3 linked regions of the Homo sapiens genome follow. The protein of the gene in region 2 interacts with the protein of the main gene of each other region in a biochemical or structural test. Each region holds a gene or a part of one and is shown on either strand. Other genes may lie near its edges. The genes, in order: HEXB, ITGB1 and ANGPT2.

What was found.
Region 1: the proteins of ITGB1 (region 2) and HEXB form a complex in vitro, tested with the Homo sapiens proteins (one study listed by BioGRID).
Region 3: the proteins of ITGB1 (region 2) and ANGPT2 form a complex in vitro, tested with the Homo sapiens proteins (one study listed by BioGRID).

Annotation. Positions count from the first base shown.
Region 1 is NC_000005.10:74,715,996-74,719,010, reverse strand, and holds part of HEXB (beta-hexosaminidase subunit beta isoform 1 preproprotein), read right to left. Parts: intron 2,425-3,015; coding exon 2,338-2,424; intron 721-2,337; coding exon 648-720; intron 215-647; coding exon 40-214; intron 1-39. UniProt on the Homo sapiens protein: Hydrolyzes the non-reducing end N-acetyl-D-hexosamine and/or sulfated N-acetyl-D-hexosamine of glycoconjugates, such as the oligosaccharide moieties from proteins and neutral glycolipids, or from certain mucopolysaccharides.
Region 2 is NC_000010.11:32,909,572-32,913,308, forward strand, and holds part of ITGB1 (integrin beta-1 isoform 1A precursor), read right to left. Parts: intron 2,554-3,737; coding exon 2,315-2,553; intron 2,100-2,314; coding exon 1,877-2,099; intron 885-1,876; coding exon 652-884; intron 1-651.
Region 3 is NC_000008.11:6,514,746-6,518,245, forward strand, and holds part of ANGPT2 (angiopoietin-2 isoform b precursor), read right to left. Parts: intron 34-3,500; coding exon 1-33. UniProt on the Homo sapiens protein: Binds to TEK/TIE2, competing for the ANGPT1 binding site, and modulating ANGPT1 signaling. Can induce tyrosine phosphorylation of TEK/TIE2 in the absence of ANGPT1.

The sequences.
Region 1 (3,015 bases), on a different chromosome or scaffold from region 2:
ACAGTAACCCACAACACTTGGACCAACTGCTTCACTTACCGCCAAAATCAAGAGGTTCCACTTTATAGTATTTCCTCCAATCTTGTCCATAGCTAATCAAATCTAAGTACCAAGGAGCAGAAAGGATTACAGGGAAGCCAGATGCTGTGACTCTACTGAGTTCCTCAGGATATGCGCTGTCTTTCCATACTTCAACTATTGTGCCCGGCGCAAGCTATTAACGTTACAAATTGCAATACATATTATTAGGCCTAGAACAGTAGATGAAATTGAAAGTTTAAGGCATTATTACTAGGAACATAATTTTCTAAGATCCTTAAAAAAAATCTGCATTTTCTTTTTCCTCTTTTCTTCAGAGTTAGTGCCATGTGATACTCATTTTAGGGACTTAAAAGTTTCATCAACCTTAGGTTTGAATATTTAACTTTTGCTTATATATGGATACCACATAGGTTCAGTTAACTAAAGCTGAGACTTGCATTTTAGTCTTATTTCTACCAAACCTAGCTTGGAACTATGAGGTCCAAAGTGGTCACTAACTACACTAGAAAGGTAATACTAGTAGTTAGACTTGCAAATTCCCAGTTGCCCCAAGAAAAATAATTAAGTCTCTTATATTGATCAGATGCAGTCTTCACAATGCTCACCTTTGCTTTATCATCAAAAACCTCCTGCCAGACAATGGATCCCTTGTTTATGGTTGCAATAATATCCAAAACCCTAGTATTACAAAAAAATTATAGTTATTTTAGATCATAAGCTTAACAATATATTTAAAACATGTACATTTTCTACCAAGGATTTCTTGCATTTTGAGAGGTGCCTTTTAGTATAGTTCAGCTTTATAGCAGAAGCAGCTCAAGTTGGGAAGTGTCACAAGTAGTTCCTCCTTTTTAGCACTTGATACAGAACCTAACATAGTATGGGGGTTTAATAATCATTTGCTGAATGAATGAGTTAAACATGCCCCTAAGATAGGAAGAAGTGGCCTCAAATTGAGTTGGTAGGCAACTCAGGAAATTGTACAAACAGCAATCTCTTACAATTTTATGGCTGTCTTAAAATGGTAGGGACCACGATCTAGCCTGTCATATCACATAAATTACATGTAACAGTTACTGACAATCCACAAATATTTACAGATATTTACATAATGCCAGGTGCTCTGCAGATAAATAACACTTAAATGCATCACACAAAAAGCTGAACAGGCAAAGGCTGGAATCTGGGCTTGCCAAATAAATGGTACAGCATAAGGGTTGGCAACTACAGCTTGCAGGCTGTTTTTGTATGTCTCATGGGCTAAGAATGGTTTTTATATTTGTAAAGCATTTTTTTTTAAGTTTTAAAATTTGAGGTTTTTTTTAAGTTAAAAAAAAATTGTATGTGGTCCATGGGCAATTGTATGTGGCCCATGAAGCCTAAAATCTTTACTCTCTGACCCTTTACAGAAAAAGTTTGCCAATCCCTCTAGAGCAGCACGGTCTAGTAGAACTTCCTGGGATGGAAATGTGTATATATATATATATATATGCATTTTTCAGTATGGCAGTCACTAGCCTCAGCTGGCTACTGAACACTTGACATGTGGCTAATGCAACTGAGTAGCTGAATTTTTAACTTTCATTAATTTTAATTAATTTACATATGGACAGACACCTGTGGCTATGGCTACTGTATTGGGTAGCACAGGTATATAGTAAAATATATGTTCCTGGAATTGACAAAATGGAATGAATTCCAGGGGCTGGATGGTAGTGAAGACTTCACAGGGTAGCCAGGGCTTCAAGCTGAGTTTTATATTTATTGATGGATTGATTGATTGATTGATTGAGACAGTCTCACTCTGTTGCCCAGGCTGGAGTGCAGTGGTGCGATCTTAGCTCACTGTAACCTCCATCTCCCAGGAGATTCTCCCTCAGCCGCCCGAGTAGCTGGGACTACAGGCACCTGCCACCATGCCTGGCTAATTTTTTCATTTTTAGTAGAGATGGGATTTCACCATGTTGGCCAGGCTGGTCTCGAACTCCTGGCCTCCGGTGATCCACCTGCCTCGGCCTCCCAAAGTGCCGGGATTACAGGTGTGAGCCACCATGCCCAGCCCAATCTGAGTTTTTAGAACAGATGACTGCCTTCCTATATTTCAACAGCTATTGGAAAATACTTGGAGTCACCATGTTACTGATTTAAAGCAAGCAGTGGGTATTGCCTCCTTTAGTGATTTTTCACATCTACACTTAGGCAAAGGATGTAGAGAAAATGTAAAAAATAAAGCACATTACTAAATAAACTTTTACAAAAAGCATTAATACAGAAATAGGCTTTCAAACAACTTACTTTTGAATGTAGAAAGATTCTAGTTTCTTAAAATCTGTGCCAAAGCCTTTTTGCCTCATGAAATCTTGAATTTTTGGATTTGATTCCCTGAAGCAAAAAGTGATTAAAATTTCATTAGAAGTTTGATATGCTCAGTTTATTATTTAGAGCAGTATACATGCCTAACATCAGTTGTGCAGACTTAAAACTATTAAAGTTTGTAGGTAGTAAAAAGAAGCCTAAAAACTTAATTACAAGTTATCTTAATTATCCATTGCAAACAATTTTTTCAAGAAGCTGATTTCCTTTAAAAATGGCTTTCTTTACCTTACCACCTTTCTCCTCCATCTAAAGCTATTTGCAGAGAGAATTTTTATTTGAAAAATCTTTCCTATTTAATCATTGATTGCCCTCTTTCACTAAAGGTGTTCTCATTTCACAGTAGTCTTTTTTTGAATCTCCATTTTCTTCTGCATCTTGTTTTTCCTCAAGCTTTACTTTGCCATACCAAAATGTACATTCTCCACAAATCTACCATCTCAGGAGTCATGTTGCCCAGTTTAAACCCTTACAAGCAGGCATGTTACTCTTAAGTCTTCCTTATGGTGTGGAGCCCTCTACAGCTACTTCAATGCAACAGGTTTTTTATTCCATTTTTTTTTTTTTTTTTTTTTTTTTGAGATGGAGTCTCACTCTGTC
Region 2 (3,737 bases):
TGCAAAACACCTAGCTGATAATTCAAAACAGTATGGGAGTCTAAGAGTCTGGCAGCTTCTTAACAAAGTTAAACATATGCTTACCATATGCTCCAAAATGCCATTTTTAGTATTTACCCAAGAGAAATGAAAGCTTATGTTCACACAAAAACATGTACACTATGGTAGAAAATTCCAAAGAATCTACAAAAAGGCTACTAGGAAAACTAAGATTAAAAAAAAAAAGTTTCACCTCCGGAGAAGTTGAACAAATTCAACACTTTATATTAATATCCTTTAACAAATTATCTTTCCCAGTATTCAAGCTTAAATCAAGCTCTAATTTTAAAATCATCAATCATCAAAAAACTCTTAATATGCACTTGGTGTCAGGCATCGTTCTAAGTGTCTTATATAAATCACTAAGCGTCTTATATAAATCACTGTATTTAATCTTCAAACTCTCCACTCAGAAAACTTAAAAGTGGAACTCTCTTTTCCTTATTTCTTATACAGTTAATTAGATAATATTTTAAGCTTTGAGAGATGAAAAATTTCCCAACTTGACCTAAAATATTCCAGCTGGAGGCTGTTTCTGGATGTTAGGCCTAAATAAGCAGAAACAAGACATACAAGATATGAAAAGAATGTCTGCAATCATCGCATTTCTACCTGGATTCTCCACAACATGAACCATGACCTCGTTGTTCCCATTCACTGAATACGTAAAATAGAACCAACAGTCGTCAACATCCTTCTCCTTACAATGGGACACAGGATCAGGTTGGACCGGCTGGGGTAATTTGTCCCGACTTTCTACCTTGGTAATGTTAAAATAGGAACATTCCTGTGTGCATGTGTCTTTCTTTTCTCCTTTATTGAAGGCTCTGCACTGAACACATTCTCTGTTACAAAAAACACAAATTATGATATTTACATTTTATTATTTCAGTAAATATTTGCTTAAACATATTTCCCATGCTAAACTCTTGTGACCAAATTGAACAAACAGCTATGAAGGAAGATTTCAATAAATGAAGAGGAACATTACATTTGTGGATAGAAAAATTATGTAAAAAGATGCTAATTTCCATAATAAAATTAAAGATTTATTACAGTTCAAATTAAAACCCTATTAAGAAATAAAAGATAGTAAAATAAATTAGCCCTATCACATATTAAATATGTAACATAAAATCATAATAATTTTTTTTTTGCGATGGAGTCTTGTTCTGTCATCCAGGCAGTGCAGTGGTGTGACCTTGGCTCACTGTAACCTCTGCCTCTCGGGTTCAAGCAAGCCTCAACCTCCCAAGTAGTTGAGATTACAGGCACACACCACCATATCTGGCTAATTTTTGTATTTTTAGTAGAGATGGGGTTTCACCACATTGGCCAGACTGGTCTCAAACTCCTGACCTTAAGTGATCCACCTGTCTCGGCCTTCCAAAGTGCTGGGATTACAGGTGTGAGCCACTGTGCTCGGCCAAAATCATAATAATTTAAATAATATGTTACTAGTATAATAATCCTTCAAGAGGAAAAATCTTTAATTTGGCTTAGTTTTGTCAAAAGACAGTAATTAAGAAATTGGTAATGACAAATTAAATTAAATTAAATCTTAATTGCCAAAATAAAGGTTACCATGTAAATTCAATTATCTAGCACATTCAGATCAAAATAATAGTACAACTCTCACATGACACACTTCATACCATGTAATATATACTAGCTGTTGAGAAAGAACTTTTAAGAATTAAAGAGTAGGCTTCCACATGGCAGGCATTTTATTTACAGTATATTTTAATATTGGCACTGTTCTGGTTCTAGAAACAATACAGGCTTAGGAGAGCCAAGAGGAAGTATCAACTATTTCAAGCAATTAGGAAATACTTACTTATGCTCAGCACAGACACCAAGGCAGGTCTGACACATCTCACACGTTTGCCCTTGAAACTTCGGATCTGTACACTTACAGACACCACACTCGCAGATGCCCCGGCCATTGCAGATCTGTCCGTTGCTGGCTTCACAAGTACTAGTATCCAAAGAACAGTCACATGCACTGCCAGTGTAGTTGGGGTTGCACTCACACACACGACACTTGCAAACACCATTTCCTGCAATTAAGCATATCATTTCTCAAAATGGTAAAAATATACAATCACAGTATTGACTGAAAAGTAAAATAAGCAACAACATGTGAGAAAGTATACCTAGGGGCGAGACTGACCCTCAAGCTACCCCTTTTCTACTTATGCACCAACTAAACTCAAGATTTTTCGTGGCATTAGATGGGATCACATCTTACAACCACTTCAGGCCCTTTACTTACCTCCACAAATTAAGCCATTGGATCTATCACAGTTGAAATTATCACACTCGCAGAATTTGCCAGAATAAATTTCATTTGTATTATCCCTCTTCCTACAAACACACTGTCCGCAGACGCACTCTCCATTGTTACTGCAGATTTCTGAACTGTTTTCTTTCCTGCAGTAAGCATCCATGTCTTCACTGTTAACTTCATCTGTGCTGCATTCACAATGTCTACCAACACGCCCTTCATTGCACCTGAAGAAACATGCCAAAATTGCAATCACACAAAACAAAAATAATTTAAGAGGTTCCAAGATGGCCAAACAGGAACAGCTCTAGTCTACAGCTCCCAGCGTGAGCGACACAGAAGACAGGTGGTTTCTGCATTTCCAACTGAGGTACTGGGTTCATCTCACTGGGGCTTGCTGGACAGTAGGTGCAGCCCATGGAGTGTGAGCCGAAGCAGGGCGGGGCATCGCCTCACCCGGGAAGCACAAGGGGTCAAGGAATTCCCTTTCCTAGCCAAGGGAAGCTGTGACAGACGGTACCTGGAAAATCAGGACACTCCCACACTAATACTGCGCTTTTCCAATGCTCTTAGAAAACGGAACACCAGAAGATTATATCCCGCGCCTGGCTCAGAGGGTCCCATGCCCAGCTCAGAGGGTCCCACACCCATGGAGCCTCGCTCACTGCTAGCACAGCAGTCTGAGATTGAACTGCAAGGCAGCAGGGAGGCCGAGGGAGGGGTATCCCCCATTGCTGAGGCTTGAGTAGGTAAACAAAGCAAAAAAAAGCTAAAACTGGGTGAAGCCCATTGCAGCTCAAGGAGGCCTGCCTGCCTCTGTAGACAACACCTCTGGGGGCAGGGCATAGCTGAACAAAATCCAGCAGAAACTTCTGCAGACTTAAACATCCGTGTCTGACAGCTTTGAAGAGAGTAGTGGTTCTCCCAGCACGGAGTCTGACATCTGAGAATGGACAGACTGCCTCCTCAAGTGGGTCCCTGAGCCCGAGTAGCCTAACTGGGAGACACCTCCTAGTAGGGGCTGACTGACACCTCATACAGCCCGGTGCCCCTCTGAGACGAAGCTTCCAGAGGAAGGATCAGGCAGCAACATTTGCCATTCTGCAATATTTGCTGTTCTGCAGCCTCCGCTGGTGATACTCAGGCAAACAGGGTCTGGAGTGGACCTCCAGCAAACTCCCAACAGACCTGCAGCTGAGGGTCCTGACTGTTAGAAGGAAAACTAACAAACAGAAAGGACATCCACACCAAAACCCCATCTGTACATCACCATCATGGAAGACCAAAGGTAGATAAAACCACAAAGATGGGGAGAAACCAGAGCAGAAAAGCTGAAAATTCTAAAATTTGAGCACCTCTTCTCCTCCAAAGAAATGCACCTCCTCACCAGCAACGGAACAAAGCCGGACGG
Region 3 (3,500 bases), on a different chromosome or scaffold from region 2:
CCCGCCTCCTCCAGCTTCCATGTCACAGTAGGCCTGCAAACAGGAATGCAGGGTATAAGTGACAGAGCCCCCCCACTCCCCCCTTACGTAGCAGAAGCAGGAGGAATGTAGACCCTGAGTGCAGGACTCAGCCGAGAGGGTTCTCTGGGATATAAGGCACGGAGTAGACCATCGGGGTTGTCTAAGAAACAGATGGTTTCAAATAAATTGAAAGTGATGGATTAAAATGATGGTGAAACATAAACAGTAATATAATATAAAGTGTTGATGAGAATATGACTCACTTGTCATCATCTGTTCCAGGCTAAAGACCCCACCCTGATGGCTGGTCCAGAGATTGCTGTTTTTTTAGAGATTCATTATGAATGGCACATTTTGGCAGATTGGCCCCGAACCCCACATCTCCATCCTGTAGAAAACCATTGACTTGTGTTCACAGCCTTGAAACCTTTCACTAAATGCCAGCCCCTGCCCCTCCACAGAGAGCTATGTGAAGGGGATACTCTTTGATCATAGGGTTTGGAGGACTCCTGTTACATTCTCGTACTGTGGGGCTGTTTGGCTTCCTTTATGTGCAATACTAATCAGATTTTTTGGTTCACATCTGAGCACAAGGGCCTTGAGGCTCCAGTGTCCTGGTGCAAGGTGTGTGACCTGGGCTTGGCTTAGCACCTTGGCCTCAAGGGCATGACTTCACGCTTCTCTGTACATAGCTCACTGCCCACAGTTTTTCTCTAAGCAACTCTTTTTATTTCTGCTCTTAAACTGGCTCTGTGGGTTTAAACTTTGTCCAGAACACAGAATTCTTTCTTAAGCTAAGCGCATGCATGCTCAATTTCAACTCAGCTGGAGTTTTATTATGAAATTAAAAACCCCTGAAAATAAGATTACATAAATAGTTTTAAATAATAAAGATTACAGTAGAACGAAACATGTTTTCCAGAAAGTAAGATAAATTTTCTGCCACATACAAGGTAGGAAATATTGAAGTTAAGGTTCAAAACCAATTGTAAATATTCTTCTTGTGTTGTGTCCCATGGTCTTTTTGAGAATAATGGAGGCGATTTGGCAGGGTAAGCTTCAACGCACACTGTTCTCTGTTTACGAGTTAGAATCCTAAAGAGGAGAGCGAAAAGAGAACCAAGAGAGTGCTATTCCTGTTCTTTCATTTCCTACATGAGGAAAGAGGGGTGCAGAGGAAGTGCAGTGGCTGCCTGATGCCTCATTGCCAGTGCAACCAGAGAACTGTCCCTGGAACAGCCTGGTCTGCAGGGGACTTCTCCCCAGCATGGTTCTGGTCTCTCTCCAGGAAGGTCACCCAGCTCGTATTGCCTTCCCCAGTGGCACTCATGTTTGGAAACATAGGTGCCATTAATGAAAGTTACATTTATTAAGAAGAAAATTATTTCCTCATTTTAAATTAATCTGATGTAGAAAATCAGTCTGCACAAGCTAACCCCTTGTTACCGCTCTGTATTGCTATGATTTTTATTATCATTGCTACACACCACTCTCATCCAAGTACTCTGCCAGATACTTTGTGTATATTATCTATAATCTCACAGCAACTCTGCTGTAGTATCATAATTCTGCATTTTTGAAAGGAGAAAAGATTTAGCAAAGTTCGATTTTGATCAGTTACTCACCTTCTAAGTGATATATAGGATTTGAATAAGGTCTCTTTGATTCCTGTTATGTTTTTTTTCCACTGACATCATGCTGCCAAAAACAGAGAAACCTGACCCTTTGGTAAATAGGCCAAAAGTCCCTCAACACAGTTCCAAGTTTAAATCAGTTCATGAATAATACTGCCTCTTATTTGCCTGCAGTCAACAAAATGGTCAGTGCTGCTCACTTCTATCAATATTTCTTTTTAAAAATCTATTTCATAAACCAGCTGAATAAGCTACTTTGGTTTGAGGATTCATGTACATATATTGAAGTTAATTCTGTATCCTAAATGGTATGCTCTTGGGTTGAAAGCATTGACGTGGCTCTTGGTGAGCCTATCCTTGTTCCAAGAATGTTTGATTCTTCAGTGTCAAAATTACTGCTATGAAGTTACCAGTACTTAAATACATGTTCTATCTTGTTCAGAGAACAAGTTTATCTTGTTATGGAAGTCAGAGGCAAAACTCTTAAATGTCTGAGAGTCACTGCCAGCACATAAATGATTTGAGCCATATGAGTATTCGCTTTGATTCCATTAGTGATGATGATAAGGTTATTAGAACATTTTCTTAGTACTTCATCCAGGTTTTTAGAAAAAAGAACAGAGGATTTGTAAAAACTGGAGTATTATGGTTAATTGGACTATAAAACTTGCAGAGAAAGATAGTGTTCAAATAGAGTTATCTACCCAGCCAGAAGATACTGAGTAAAAGTGCTGAAATTGATTATATCAGGATCAGCAAAGCAGAAGTCCTCAGATACTTCCCAAGACCTTACCACTCCAATTACAACAAACCTAAGGGCAGTTAATATCTTTAATCTGTCCACTGGTGCATGGTGCAGGAACCTGATATCTTTCTATAAAGCTTGATGTTTTTCAGCAAATAATACTTGACTTGCTTCAACTCTGAGGCAATGATTAAGTGACGGGTTAAATAGCAAACCATAGAGACAACCGTTAGGAGTCAGGTGTCCTGTGAAATTTAGGGAAGGAAATGACCATACATGCTTTTGATAAATGCCATCTTGCAGTCTCTCTCTCGTAGAAGAACCAAATGAATTTTTCAAAACTAAAGCTGCAGTATTTTGGCCTTTCAGGAAAAGATGTGCTCAAAGACCAATTGAACATTCTTTTCTTGAATTAGATAAATGAGTGCAGAATCGGGTCTCCTGCCAGGCAGAGAAGTTGTCTGGTAGTCTTTGAAGGCAGTGAAAATGGTGACCACTACCATTTACTGTCCCAAGTTCTACCCCAGGGGCTGTCCCTGTGTTGTCACAACCCCCAAGGCTGAGGGTATCATTGTTCTGTTACAGATGGGGAAACTGAGCTCTCAGAAAGGTTAAATGACTCGCCCAGAGCCACAAATGGCAGAGCTAGAATTTACATCCAAGTCTGTCTATCTCTCCCTGGATCAGATTGTGACTTACAGAGTCTTAAGTCTGGAAGGGAATTTAGAAGTAACAATTGACACCACTTATTTTTCAAGATGAGAAAATTGAGGTTTGTGAAAGCTTATTGTTCCCTGCTGTGTAAATGAGTTTCTTTTACTGCAAATGTTTAAAGGGAATATAAATCCTAATGTTTCCAACCATGACCTGAGGCTCATATAATCCCAGAGTACTATATATTTTCATCTTTCTGCAGAATATTTCAGTTATTCTGGGGGCCATGGGGTGGGACAGTGCACTGGGGTGGGAAGCTTGCACTTAGACTGAGAAACATAGATGAAACAATGTGATGGGGCTGCATGGTTAGCGGCTGTCCCTCTGCATCGGTGTCCATGGCATCCCCATTTCACATGCATCCTCTGTCCCCCCTCTTGACACTC